Homo sapiens: one gene and its partners. The protein of the gene in region 4 interacts with the protein of the main gene of each other region in a pairwise test. Each region holds a gene or a part of one and is shown on either strand. Other genes may lie near its edges.

The links. The genes of interacting proteins can lie anywhere in the genome.
Region 1: the proteins of NME7 (region 4) and FKBP6 interact in binary tests that used the Homo sapiens proteins (3 or more experiments, as listed by UniProt).
Region 2: the proteins of NME7 (region 4) and NT5C2 interact in binary tests that used the Homo sapiens proteins (3 or more experiments, as listed by UniProt).
Region 3: the proteins of NME7 (region 4) and NFKBIL1 interact in binary tests that used the Homo sapiens proteins (3 or more experiments, as listed by UniProt).

Annotation. Positions count from the first base shown.
Region 1 is NC_000007.14:73,355,643-73,359,125, reverse strand, and holds the end of FKBP6 (inactive peptidyl-prolyl cis-trans isomerase FKBP6), read right to left. Parts: intron 946-3,483; 3' UTR 501-945; downstream 1-500. UniProt on the Homo sapiens protein: Has an essential role in spermatogenesis. It is required to repress transposable elements and prevent their mobilization, which is essential for the germline integrity.
Region 2 is NC_000010.11:103,095,773-103,099,272, reverse strand, and holds part of NT5C2 (cytosolic purine 5'-nucleotidase), read left to right. Parts: intron 1-288; coding exon 289-342; intron 343-1,184; exon of another isoform or gene 1,185-1,225; intron 1,226-1,898; coding exon 1,899-1,982; intron 1,983-3,292; coding exon 3,293-3,334; intron 3,335-3,500. UniProt on the Homo sapiens protein: Broad specificity cytosolic 5'-nucleotidase that catalyzes the dephosphorylation of 6-hydroxypurine nucleoside 5'-monophosphates.
Region 3 is NC_000006.12:31,554,108-31,557,607, reverse strand, and holds part of NFKBIL1 (NF-kappa-B inhibitor-like protein 1), read right to left. Parts: intron 1-3,500. UniProt on the Homo sapiens protein: Involved in the regulation of innate immune response. Acts as negative regulator of Toll-like receptor and interferon-regulatory factor (IRF) signaling pathways.
Region 4 is NC_000001.11:169,326,298-169,329,797, forward strand, and holds part of NME7 (nucleoside diphosphate kinase homolog 7), read right to left. Parts: intron 1-3,500. UniProt on the Homo sapiens protein: Possesses an intrinsic kinase activity. Displays 3'-5' exonuclease activity with a preference for single-stranded DNA. Does not seem to have nucleoside diphosphate kinase activity.

The DNA.
Region 1 (3,483 bases), on a different chromosome or scaffold from region 4:
AGGCCTGTGTGGGGCAGGGAGCCCGGGGTGTTGGGGTGCAGGAGGGTGAGATGGCCTCAGGCCTGTGTGGGGCAGGGAGCCCGGGGTGTCGGGGTGCAGGAGGGTGAGGTGGTCTCAGGGCTGTGTGGGGCAGGGGGCCCGGGGTGTCGGGGTACAGGAGGGTGAGGTGGCCTCAGGGTCGTGTGGGGCAGGGAGCCCGGGGTGTCGGGGCGCAGGAGGGTGAGGTGGCCTCAGGGCTGTGTGGGACAAGGATCCCGGGGTGTCGGGGTATGGGAGGGTGAAGTAGCTTCAACTTTCCATTAAGCTGCTGGCATCAGCTCCCCACACTGGGAGCGGGCTTAGGGAACCCCAAGCCTGGTGTGCAGCGTTTCGTTATCAGGTGAATCAGAACCGCTGGCTCCAGAGCTTGAGCCCCAGCCCCACTGGCAAATGGCCTCCCCCTGCCCACCTGGGGACTCTGGAAGCTTAGCTGAGTCCACGCAATTCACTTATACTGGATCTTGCAAGGACAAGGAAGTGTTTTATTTATTTACAACAAAAACATTTGTAACATAATTCTGTCTTCAAAACAGAGAACCCTACAAAATACACAAAGCAATCTCTATTGGTGTTGACTCAGGGACATTCGCAGCCGGAAGCAGGGCTGGGACTGGGAGGGAAGCCAAGGACTAATTCCGTCTAAAAAAACAAGAAACTGCCTTAAAAAAAGTAGCAGTGTTCTACTTGTCAGTAGCTGCGCTTTCCCCTCCCTTCTGTTACGAACACGGAAAACAGAAAACAGCACCTGTGAAAACACGTTTCAGCCGCGTCCATGAGAGATGCGGCCACAGGACATTCCAGCCCCTGCTCCTGGAAGGTGGCTGCCACGGCTGCGCTGGGAGCTCCCTTCCACTCCCCCAATGATGGAGAACCACAGCTCTCTCCCCTCGTTGGTAGGTGAAGAACCTGGGAATCAAACAGCCATTAAAAACATCTCAGGACTCAGCAGCTGCCACACGACGTCACAGTCACATGTGCTGAGGGCTAGCAGCTGAGGTCAGGGAAGGGCATGGCCGGTGACCACACAGGAGCCAAGAGACAGATGCCATCACCGTGTGGCCCTACTAGATGGGCTCTGGGAAACTTTTTTTTTTTTTTTTGAGACAGAGCCTTACTCTGTCACCCAGCTGGAGTGCAGTAGCACAGGCTCTGCTCACTGCAACCTCTGCCTCCCGGGTTCAAGTGATTCTCCTGCTTCAGCCTCCTGAGTAGCTGGGATTACAGGCACGCACCACCACGCCTGGATACTTTTTTTTGCATTTTTAGTAGAGACAGGATTTCGTCATGTTGGCCAGGCTGGTCTCGAATTCCTGACCTCAAGTGATCTGCCTGCCTCGGCCTCTCAAAGTGCTGGGATTACAGGCGTGAGCTACCCTTTCCCTTCTCTTTCCTCCCTACCCCAATACAACCAAAGGAGCCAGCACCTGAGAGAGGGAAGAGGAGGTGGGGTGTCAGGAACAGACCCCTTTCCAGTCAGACTTCCAGAACCACAGGCAACGGGACAGAAGTAAGTAAAGACTGAGGTGGTGCCAGGCGCATTGGCTCACACCTGTAATCAAAGCAGTTTGGGAGGCTGAGGCGGGCGGATCACTTGACATCAGTAGTTCGAGACCAGCCTAGCCAACATGATTAAACCCCATCTCTACTAAAAATACAAAAATTAGCCAGGCGTGGTGGCTGGTGCCTGTAATCCCAGCTACTTGGGAGACTAAGGCAAGGAGAATTGCTTATACCCGGGAGGCAGAGGTTGCAGTGAGCCAAGATCGCCTGAGTGACAGAGTGAGACTCCGTCTCAAAAAAAAAAAAAAAAAAAAAAACCAAACCAAACAAAAACAAACAAACATTTCCATAACATGATAAGAAAAAAATACAGCTCAGCCAAAGTCAGCATGGTGTTTAACGGTGGAGCGAGCAGCAGCTCCATTACGGTCATGAGGCACACCCATCGCTACTGTTCTAGAAGCATGCACCGCACCATCAGGCTCTGAATAAGACATGAGAGGAGGGCCAGGCACAGTGGCTCATGCCTGTAATCCCAGCACTTTGGGAGGCCAAGCTGGGGGGGATCACCTGAGGTCAGGAGTTCAAAATCAGCCTGGCCAACATGGTGAAACCTCGTTTCTACTAAAAATACAAAAATTAGCTGGGCGTGGTGGCAGGCACCTGTAATCCCAGCTACTCGGGAGGCTGAGGCAGGAGAATCGCTTGAACCCAGGAGGCAGAGGTTGCAGTGAGCCGAGATCACGCCACTGTACTCCAGCCTGGGTGACAAGAGTGAAACTCTGTCTTGTGAGGGGAAACAAAAAAGATACAAGAGGAGAAGACAAAATGACCATTACCGGCATATGGTATCACATACCTGATGCATGCAGTGAAACTGCTGATAGAACTCACAGAATTAATGACAGAGTTATCAAAAATAACTTAAAAACATCAGAAAGGTGTTTGGTTATAGAGAAACAATTAGGCAATTTACAGAAAGGCCACCTCAGTCTGGAAACATGTGAACAGAGACCTGGTCAGGGAACTGCTAATGCTAGTAATGAGATCCTATTTGAGATACACCAACCTGGCAAATATTAAAAAGTCTAGCAATCCAAATGATGGCAAAGCGACGGAATGGAATCTCTCAGACACTACCAAGAACAAACTGGTACAGCCACTGGAGAGGTCAGTTTAGCATGACCTAGTTCAGGCAAAGACACACCCATCACAACCAGTGATAGGACTTTGACTGTCACAGGAAAGTCAGGCGTGAGGATAGCTCCATGACCATGTTTCTGTGTGTCTATCTAATCTCTACCTACCTACCTGCCTACTAATCACTGTGAAAACCATTTCCATATCCTGACAGGATGGAATGCTATCCAGCCACTTCTTAAAAACGACGTAGTTCTCTTTGTGTTAACTTAGAAAACACTCAAAATGCAATAAAAATATATTCTAGTACAAAATGTATAATTCTTTTTGTGGACAAGTTACATATACACTCACTTTTTTTTTTTTTTTTTTTTTTTTTTTGAGACAGAGTCTTGCTCTGTCGCCCAGGCTGGAGTGCAGTGGCACGATCTCTGCTGTCTGCAAGCTCCGCCTCCCGGGTTCAAGCCACTTCCTTGCCTCAGCCTCCCGAGAAGCTGGGACCACAGGCGCCCGCTACCACACTCAGCTAATTTTTTGTATTTTTAGTAGAGACGGAGTTTCACTGTGTTAGCCAGGATGGTCTCGATCTCCTGACCTCGTGATCTGCCTGCTTCGGCCTCCCAAAGTACTGGGATTACAGGTGTGAGCCATCGCACCCGGCTGGCATGTGGCATTTTTATAATTCAAAATTAAGTACTACCAAAAAATTGGAGAGTGGGTACAGGAACAGCAGAAAGATGTTCACTGTCAAGCCTGGGTAATGATACATGGGTAGTGATCATGTTATCATTTTTTTTTTTTTAC
Region 2 (3,500 bases), on a different chromosome or scaffold from region 4:
CAAAACCCTGTCTGTACAAGAAATACAGAAAATTAGCCAGGCATGTTGGTGTGGACCTGTGGTCCTAGCTACTTGGGAGGCTGAAGTGGGAGGATCACCTGAGCCTGGGGAGGTCGAGGCTGCAGTGAGCTGAGATTGTACCACTGCACTCTAGCATGGGCAACAGGGTGACCTTGTCTCAAAAAAAGAAAGGATTTGGGTTGATTAGTAAAAACCATTTTTCTTATAAACTACATGTTAAAAACTGATTTTGTTCTTTTCTTAATTCTTTTTTTTGTCTTCCTCCAGGGCTCCCTTAAGGAAAAGACAGTTGAAAATCTTGAGAAGTATGTAGTCAAAGATGTAAGTAATATAGGGGAAAATAGATCTGCATAATAGCTCATTTTACCTATTAGGGAAATTAATAACAAGCTGATTTATAATGAAATGGACAAAAGAAGAGATTTGTCTTGGCATAGTATGTGTCGGGTATAATCACCAAGAATATTCAGCTAGAGCATAGGTCTTAGTAGAGTTTTTCCTGTTTCTTGATAGGCAAGAAGACTCAGTATTTCATTTTTCCTGTTTCTTGATAGGCAAGAAGACTCAGTATTGCATTTGTTCGCTTAGCTTCAATTATAATAGCAGTTAGAGGTTTACTGTATGCACATCATCACCATGCTAAGTGATTACATGCATTATGCCATTTAATCTTCTGTATGACCTTGAGTTAGGTATTATTGTTGCCTCTGTTTTATAGATAAAAAACCTGAGAAATAGAGGGATTAAATAACTTGCCAGAGGTCACACAGTTAGTAAGTAGTAAAGCTAAGTCACACCCAAATCATAACTACTGCACTAGATCATCTCAAAAATGTGCATATATGTTACTGTTATTTAAAATGCCTTTAACCTGTCAACAGAGAGTAATGAGGAAAGCTTTAAAGTACCTTAAAAGGCATTAGTGGCAAACCTGATAAAATTTTTTAAAAAATCTGTGGTTAATAGTATTGTACCAATGTTAATTTCATACTTTTCATAATTATACTGTGGTTATATAAGATGTTAATATTAAGGGAAACTGGAGGAAGAATATATGGGAACTCTTTATTTTCACAGCTTTTCTATAAGTCTAGAACTGTTTTAGAATAAAAATTAAACACACATAGTGCCCCAAGATGACATACTTCTTTCTTTTCCTACAGAGTAAAAGTAGCAGAATACAGTATTTTCTCAAAGTACTGTGGTAAAGATTTCTTGTTTTCAGTTTTTGTGCTTCCTATTTTCACCCACCTCCCTTATTTCAAGAAAGAACACTGAATGGGGAGGGTCCGGGAGAATTTGAGTGAAGGAATCTATTTGCTATGCGAGAAGGAAAAGATATTTTTCTTTCCAGGCACATGAGGGGTTAGAATTTCCTCATTTAAGCGCACGTGGGTGTGGGTATTTCTAGGTAGCATCTGCACATGTCATTTCATTCTGCAAGGTGTTTTATAAAACCATAGTGTACACACTGAAAGCCATATCTAATAATCTCTATGTAGAGCATGTTTAAATCAGCTTCTGCTGACCTTTAACACACCTCACATACTTCAAGAAATCTCAAGGTAATTTAAACTCTTTCCTGAGGCAGACATCATGAGGAAGGTAGAGATATGTTGTTAACAGCCATATAACCCCTATAAATATGTGTATAATTTTACATGTAAATCTATTACATACACTGTGTATACTACATATGTTAATACTTTATTCATTTATAGTGATAATGTGGGCTTTTAAGTGCAAAATTCTGAAATCAGCTAACCCTTAAAAGGTTCCCCCATTCCTGTTGTGGACAGAAATCCAGTATTTGACAACTCCAAAGTGTAAAGATAAAAATGTTTTCGTGTTTCACTCATTATCCAATTACATTTCAGGGAAAACTGCCTTTGCTTCTGAGCCGGATGAAGGAAGTAGGGAAAGTATTTCTTGCTACCAACAGTGACTATAAATATACAGATGTAAGTGCTTCATGTGTATATTTATTTATGCAGTGGAATTATTTTGGCCTAAAGAACTGTGAAGACAATGAGGAAGATAGAAGTTTATTAAGTGAAAATAGTTTCTTGCCTTCTCATTTTCAAAGAGTAAAAAGGCAAAAATATACAGGATAACAGTGGTTCTCAAATTTTTCTAGAAATTTATTTTAACCATTTTCACTGATTATAATTGGCTACTTGAAAATTTTAATCTTGGGGTTATTTAAAACATTTGTAAAGATTAAAATGGCTTTTGTGTCTCTTTGGAGCATCATTTCTATAAACTTGAGCAGTCACACCCCTTATTGATGTGTATGTATGACTTTCCCTGCTGTTGGAAGACCTGCAGCAATAGATGCTGCACAGATGTTTTGGCTCTTAGCTGTCAAAATTTATATATCTTTTTTTTTTTTTTTTTTTTTTTTTTGAGACAGAGTCTCACTCTGTCGCCCAGGCTGGGGTGCAGTGGTGCGATCTCGGCTCACTGCAACCTCTGCCGCCTGGGTTCAAGCAATTCTCCTGCCTCAGCCTCCCAAGTAGCTGGGATTACAGGCACCTGCCACTGCGCCTGGCTAATTTTTTTGTATTTTTAGTAGAGACGAGGTTTTAACATCTTGGACAGGCTGGTCTTGAACTCCTGACCTCGTGATCCACCCACCTTGGCCTCCCAAAGTGCTGGGATTACAGGCGTGAGTCACTGTGCCCAGCCCAAAATTTACTACCTCTTAAAAACAGTTTTTTCCCATGATTAAAGCATGTGGAAAAACTGATCTAACTCCTTAACTTCATCTTACTTTTGCTGAGACACTTAAAAATTTATAGTACTGGCAAGAAGTTCCACTTCCCCCAATTCGCTGTACATGTAAACTTGATTTAGACACCTGGTGATTTGTAGTAAACAGTCTTACATAAACCGTTGGTTTGTTGACTTAGTTGGTCTAGGGATGGCAGTAGCGAAGCCAAGGTGATAGGTTATTTCTGTGTGAGTCATTAGTTTTCTCTATACCCCTACCTCATATGCTCCTTTCCTCCAAATGTGTGTTCAAAAACATCTTCCAGAGGAAGTATGTATCCTCCCTGAGAATGTCAGAAGCCTTTTTTTCTTTTTGGTATATGGTAAAGCATTAATTTCTGGCTTCCACTGCCATGATTTCATAAAATTTAGAGGAAACAAGAATGTGGTGAGTCCTATGTTGAAAAAGACATGTTTTGTGAAAAGCTTGTAATTTCTTTAGGTTATATACCTTTTGCAAAAGTAGTATATGGACCTTATGTTAAATTTTTTTTTCCAGAAAATTATGACTTACCTGTTTGACTTCCCACATGGCCCCAAGGTACCGTATGTGACTCAATAGACCACTGCTTTAATAACAATGAATGCATTTAATCATTCTGGAATATTAAGGGGGAAAGAATTGGTCAGAACCCACCCAGAAAAGTCCTACTTTTTAAGCCTATTGTCTAATCTTCATTAACATTAGAAGTAATCCAGGAGCTAGT
Region 3 (3,500 bases), on a different chromosome or scaffold from region 4:
AGCAGAAGTTAGCTGGGACTCCCACTCCTCGGCAGAGCTGCCATCTTGAATCCTGCTGGTCACTCGCTCCCTTGGTCTTAAAGCAATGGAAGGGTGGCTCACATGGATGCCTCCTGGGTATTAGGAAATAACCATCACTGATAAATACAGACTGATAGTTTACCACATGCATGGTAAGTGTGGTAGTTTAAAATATTCTCGGCCAGGCGCGGTGGCTCACGCCTGTAATCCCAGCACTTTGGGAGTCCGAGGCGGGCGGATCACGAGGTCAGGAGATCAAGACCATCCTGGCTAACATGGTGAAATCCCATCTCTACTAAAAAATACAAAAAATTAGCCAGGCCTGGTGGCGGGCGCCTGCAGTCCCAGCTACTCGGCAGGCTGAGGCAGGAGAATGATGTGAACCCGGGAGGTGGAGCTTGTAGTAAGCCGAGATCGTGCCACTGCACTCCAGCCTAGGTGACAGAGCAAGACTCCGTCTCAAAAAAAAAAAAAAAAAAATTCTTACTTGTGTCTCCACAAACTATTTCAGCGTCCTAGAAGTTCTACCATGCCAACTGACATTTTCTGACCTGCCTCCAGCCACCAAGGCAGTGCCCAAATTCTTTGACTATGTATTCCACTTTTCACTTAAAAATATTGTCACTATATAAATCCCTTATTTTCTCACCTGAAACCATATATCAGACTGGGAAAATATCTGAATGCTCTACTCTGGGCCATTAATAAATACACAAATATGTAATACTTATCTTTTATTATCACTTATCAATAAACTGAGTAAAATAAATGTTTTCAGGGGAATTTCTCTCAGCCAGCCTTACCAGGGGATGATGGGAGAGGGGTGGGGAGGTGAACCGGCAACAACTATGGCCGGCGGCAGAGCAAGCTCTTTCCAAATGACTGCTGACCTAGGGCAGGGGAAAGGGAGTGGAGTGTGACAGAGGGTCTCACCCATGGGCTGAGAGAAAACAGGAGAGGAACCGACGTTCCTGAACTCCCCTTTTCTTCAGTCCCAACCTTGCTGCATCTGGCCCAAGGTTAGCTGAGTGCCATGCTACTTCCTTCACTGCCAACCCAGGCATCCTGGCCAGGCCCACCTGCTGTGGCCACCAACCACCTCTTTCACTTGGGGGATAGAAGAAGGGGAGGGAGGCAGCCTTCCTTCCTGTGGACCTACTTTCTTTCCCCGGGGTAAGAGGAAATGGGCTAGCAGTCCTTAAATCTTTATTTGGTAGTGCTGGAAAGTACTGTTTACCTGGCAGAAAGCTGGAATAGGGGAAGGCAAGGCCAGGAAGGCAAGAAGACAGAATGGCCCAGGTGTGGCTGGCGAAGGCCCACCATCCCTACCCAAATCACATCAGGGTTGGTGGGGGGGGGCACTTCTCCCTAGTGCTGCTGTGACCTGTCACAGACCCTCTCAACTTGTCCCACCCAGAAAGTACCTGGTCCTGTCTCTCATTCGCTTGTTCCCCACCTGAGCTCAGGTGGTGAGCATGGTGAGTGCTCAGGCTTGCATGGGAGGTTTACATTCATAGGTTTTAAGGAGTAGGGCCTCCAACTATAAAAACATAATATTAAACAGCCACTACAACTGAGGCATGTGTTTGAAAAAAGCTGGCTACAAAACTGTAGAGAGGATCAGATGTGGCCAGGCACGGTGGCTCACGCCTGTAATCCCAGCACTTTGGGAGGCTGGGGGGGGGGGACAATGGATCACAAGGTCAGGAGTTCAATACCAGCCTGGCCAAGATGGTGAAAACCCGTCTTTACTAAAACAAACAAACAAAATATATATATAATTATATTTTATATTATATATAAAATTAGCCAGGCGTGGTGGCTGACGCCTGTAATCCCAGCTACTTGGGAGGTTGAGGCAGAGAACTGCTTGAACCTGGGAGGCGGAGGTTGCAGTGAGCCGAGATCGCGCCTCTGCATTCCAGCCTGGGTGACAGGGTGAGACTCTATCTCAAAAAAAAAAAAAAAAAAAAAAAAGAGAGAGAGAGAGAGGATCAGATAATAACTGTCTAAAACAAGAGACCAAATCCTATGGTTGGAAAAAAAGAGGCCGGGCGTGGTGGCTCATGGCCTGTAATCCCAGCACTTTGGGAGGCTGAGGCGGGTGGATCACCTGAGGTCAGGAGTTCGAGACCAGCCTGGCCAACATGGTGAAATCCTGTCTCTACTAAAAATACAAAAATTAGCCAGGCGTGGTAGCATGTGCCTGTAATCCCAGCTACTTGGGAGGCTGAGTCAGGAGAATCACTTGAACCTGGAAGGCAGAGGTTGCAGTGAGCTGAGATCATGCCAGTGCACTCCAGCCTGGGCAACAGAGGGAGACTCCCATCTCAAAAAAAAAAAAAAAAAAAGAAAAAAAATAGACTGGCAAAAAATATGTAAAAATTCTAGCCTATGGGTGGTGGGGCTGTAGGTGGCTTTTCCCCCAATTTTATTTGACATTTTAATGTGAAAGGGATATAATTAAGTTGAAATTTTCTTTTTAAAGAAGGACGAACAAATTTGATAACTATTAACAGTGTACTGTGATCCCTTCCAGTCCCACCTTGGTGTACCTAAAAGCATACATATGACACATTTATTTGGAGATATGTAACCATACTACAAATATTGCTTGGCAACTTGCTTCTTTCATTTAACATCTCATTTATATTTTTCCACAGGAATATATACAGTCTACCTCATACTTTTTGACGACTTTATAATTAGTGTTCCACTGTGTGTACAAAACAAATCTCCTTACCCCAATATCGATAGACTTTGTTTCAAAAAATGTTCAGCCTCATGAGTATCTTACAGTCTTTCTGTGGGGGTAGATTTTCATAAGTGGAATTTCTGAGTCAAAGGACATGCGCAATTTGGTCAAACTGCTCTCAATAAGTTTGTGCCAATATACAAGTGTGCCTATGTCTTCCTTTACCAAAATTGAATATCATCAACCCTTTTAATTTTGCCAGTTGGATAGATTAAAAAATTATTTTATTAACAATGTTTTTTTCTTTTTCATGTCTTTTGGCTATTTGTATTTTTTGTGAATGAATTGCTCATATTCTTTATCCACTTTTTCTTTGGAAATTATATATATTGATATGAGGGTTCTATATACTGTATGTGTTATACATATTGCAAACATTTTCTTCTATCTATCTTTAAAAAAGCTTTTTTTTTCTTTTTGAGACAAGGTCTCACCCTGTTGCCCAGGCTGCAGTGCGGTGGCATGATCTTGCTCACTGCAAACTCTGCCCCACCTGGGCTCAAGCGATCCTCCCACCTCAGCCTCCTGAGTAACTGGGACTACAGGACGACAGCCACGTACCACCACGCCTGGCTAATTTTGTATTTTTTGTACAGACCAGGTCTCACTGTGTTGTTCAGGCTGGTCTTGAACTCCTGGCTCAAGTGATCTGCCTACCTTGGCATCCCAAAGTGTGGGATTACAGGTGTGAGCTATCGCACCCGGCCTAAAATTTTCATGTAGT
Region 4 (3,500 bases):
TATGACAAAGTAGCTCACAGCAAACCAATGCTACTTCTAAGAACAACTAGAAAAGTAGGATATCAAAGATTTGGAGAGCTTTTAAGGCAGCCAGGATCTGAGGATCCAAGATCCAGAAAGACAGGAAGCCCATTGAAGTGAAACCAACATTCATTGCGTTGTCTTTACTCGTAAGACATGTGCTGAGTCTCAAGTCAAGCAGACAAGTGACTGAGAAGCCTAAGAAGCTGGTAGAGGGAGCCCACCAAGGGACAGAGAAACAGGTACAAAAGTGAGCTGAAACCTGTGCTTGTTCAGTAGAGCTTTTGGAAACGAACTCCCAAGCTAGTGCTGTTTCCTCTGTGGGAAAAGGTTTATTACTCCAAGTACAAATTATATTCAAACTTGATTTAAACTTAACTTTCTGGTTTACCTTTACAGTAAAAACTGTGTTTACTTCCTAGAGTTAAAAGATGTACCTGGAGATATAACAGTGGTACATCTGGACTTGGGATAAAACATCACAGTGAGGTTGGCCTTTCAACTACCTGCCTGACACACATGCACATACACACACCATCCAGACCAAAGCCACCCTTAAAATTTAAAGAAAATTTACTTTTCAGCTTTGTTGAGCCAAATCTAGAAAAAAGGAGGAACTTGGTTTCCTTCCTCAAATGCTATTAAAGCTATATATCATTTTGTTTTAACTCTTCACTTTATGGATAAAGAAACTGAACTCCAGATAATATAAATGACTAGCATAAGGTCACAGAGCTGGTTAATAACTGAGCCAAAACTGGAAACTACATTTCCTATGACTCAGATATTTCCATATCACTAGCCTTCCAGGGCCAACTCAAGAGAGAGAAACTAACACTTTAGTAGCACATAGATACACCTTGAGTTGTCTGTCACAGATGCTCTGATGAGAATGCCACAACCTAATGATTACACAGACAATCATTAGCTCCTTCTTCCCTGAAGATTCCAACTTCTATCAAAAGTACTTTATGAGGAACATTTAAAGATTACACTGCATCAAAAAGAGACTTTCTTAAAGAAGCCAAATCATTTTTCCTCTTTTGAACATTTTAAATATAAGTTATACATAATAAAAGAGTTGATCCCTCACACATAATCACACTTTGTTCCAGAAATCTTAAAGTCTTAAAGGAAAATGTGTATTATTATACCAGAAGTCTTGAAGTGACTTGAACTGGACAATGTGGTATTATTATACCCAGAAGCCTTAGTATCTTAAAGTCTTAAGGTCTCTGTCTATACAGAGAGAACTTTCCTAGAGCACCAGTCTTACTCGATGGTAAGTAACGTAAACAATTTTTACACTGCAACATGCATATATGTGTATATAAATATATGTTATTGAGTGGAATGTAAAATTCATATAAGTTTTATAACAAAAAATAGGTGATTTTATGGAAATATTGACCAATATTGGAATTGCAAGTGAAATTATATTTGAAGATTAAACAAGTCTTTGGAGAAATAAATCACACCACCACCTCTCTCTGCTACTGTTTAAAGGAAGGTCCAGCTTTACAGTGGATCATATGAAATTAACAATCTTTTCCATACAGATATACTTTAAAAAATCCAAACTCTCAGTTCAAGAGTAAGTTTAAGCGTATGTTACCAAGCAAAATTGTACCTTGGCCTCATTTCAATAATACTGATCAGAAAGCTATTCCATTCCTGATGATACTATGATCATCAATCAACAAATACCAACTGGGCCTGGTACTACTAGCATGCTGAGTGCAACGAGCACACCAATCTGATAAGTCTGCTGCTGCTGGTGCTACTGCTGCTATCATTTGCTGGCAGCCTACAGCAAGAGACATGGCCCTGAAATGTGTTGCTTAAAGAGAAGATCCAGGAAACTATAAAGGGGTTTTTTGGAGGGGGGGATTATGGAGGAATATTTGTGAGAGTCCAAAAGACCTGGGCAAGACTTAATGTCTCTAACTCTCATTTTCCCCATTTGAAAAATGGAAACAGTACTTTCTTCATAAGGTAGTTTTGGGGATTAAATGACTTAGTTTACATGAAGCACTTAGGATTTCTGTTGCCTATGTCTCCCAAAGCGATGATGGTGGCTTATAGGTCCACCTGTGACTTTAGAACTGCATTGTACACACTCATCTCCCTCACTGATCTTTTTCTGACATACAAGAAGAGCAACTCTGGATTTGTGATGATGCAGCCTCAGCTGCAACTAACCCTAGGTAAATAGTTTTTTAAAGGTCTTTGCAGAAAAAAATCAGTATGAAGGAAAAAGGGATTTATGATGGACAAAAAAATGACTAAAATTATATTTATAAATGAAAATAAAAACTATTGAACATATAATACTAGGTAAATTTTTTTGTAAAGGATATATCATATTAATAAATCAGAGCCAAAGTACAATTCTTACCTTTTGGGGAGTTCAAACAGTTATAGATCTGTTTTTGTCAATAAAAATTTTAGTAACAATTTTCTTTTTAAATTTTATAACACTATCTGTTGCACATTCATCATTAGTTTTATAATGGACTTAGGGTGCCCCTTAAAGCAGATATAGCTTAGATCATAATACCCAAGACTTTTCAAATACATGTAAAGCCTTCCTAAGAAGGATGGGTACAAACATGCCAAGATTGCAGACTACAGTAAATACCTAACTTTTCAGTGCCCAGACACAGATGAACATCCACAAGTATCAAGATCATCCAGGAAAATATGAACTTACCAAATAAACCAAATAAGGCACAAGGGACCAATCCTGAAGAAACAGAGATATGTGACCTTTCAGACAGAGTATTCAAAATAGCTCTGCTATAGGTTTCAAAATCAACCCTGGCTAGGGGCCTGAAGCAAACCAGTTTAGTGCTAACAACAACAAAAAAAAAATCTGATCTAATTTTTTTCACTTTACTTTCTCTCCCACATATTCCTTATTTCTCACTCTACCGCTCCAAGCTTCAACTTCCTTGTTCCTAAATATTTTATGAAAAAGTTCAAAACACTTTTTCTTCTGGATAAGTAATATTTGTGTTTTCTTAATGTCATGCTGTGGTTTGAATTTTCAAATTTCATGAAAATTTGTGTTTCCTGAAAAAAAAAAAAAAAAAAACCTCTGCTAAGGAAACCCAAGAAATTCAAGATAACACAGAGAAGAAATTCAGAATTCCATCAAATAAATTTAACAATGAGATTGAAATAATTAAAAAGAATCAAGCAGAAATTCTGGAGCTGAAAAATGCAAAAAGCGTACTGAAGAAGGCATCAGAGTCCTTTAATGGCAGAATTGATCAAGCAGAAGAATTAGTGAGATTGAAGACAGGTTATTTGAAAATACACAGAGGAGACAAAAAAAGAATAAAAAACATGAAGCACACCTATAGGATCTAGGAAATAGGCTGGAAAGGGCAAATCTAAGTTATTGGTCTTAAAGAAGAAGTAGAGAAAGAGATAGGGGTAGAAAGTTTATTCAAAGGGCTAATAACAGAGACCTT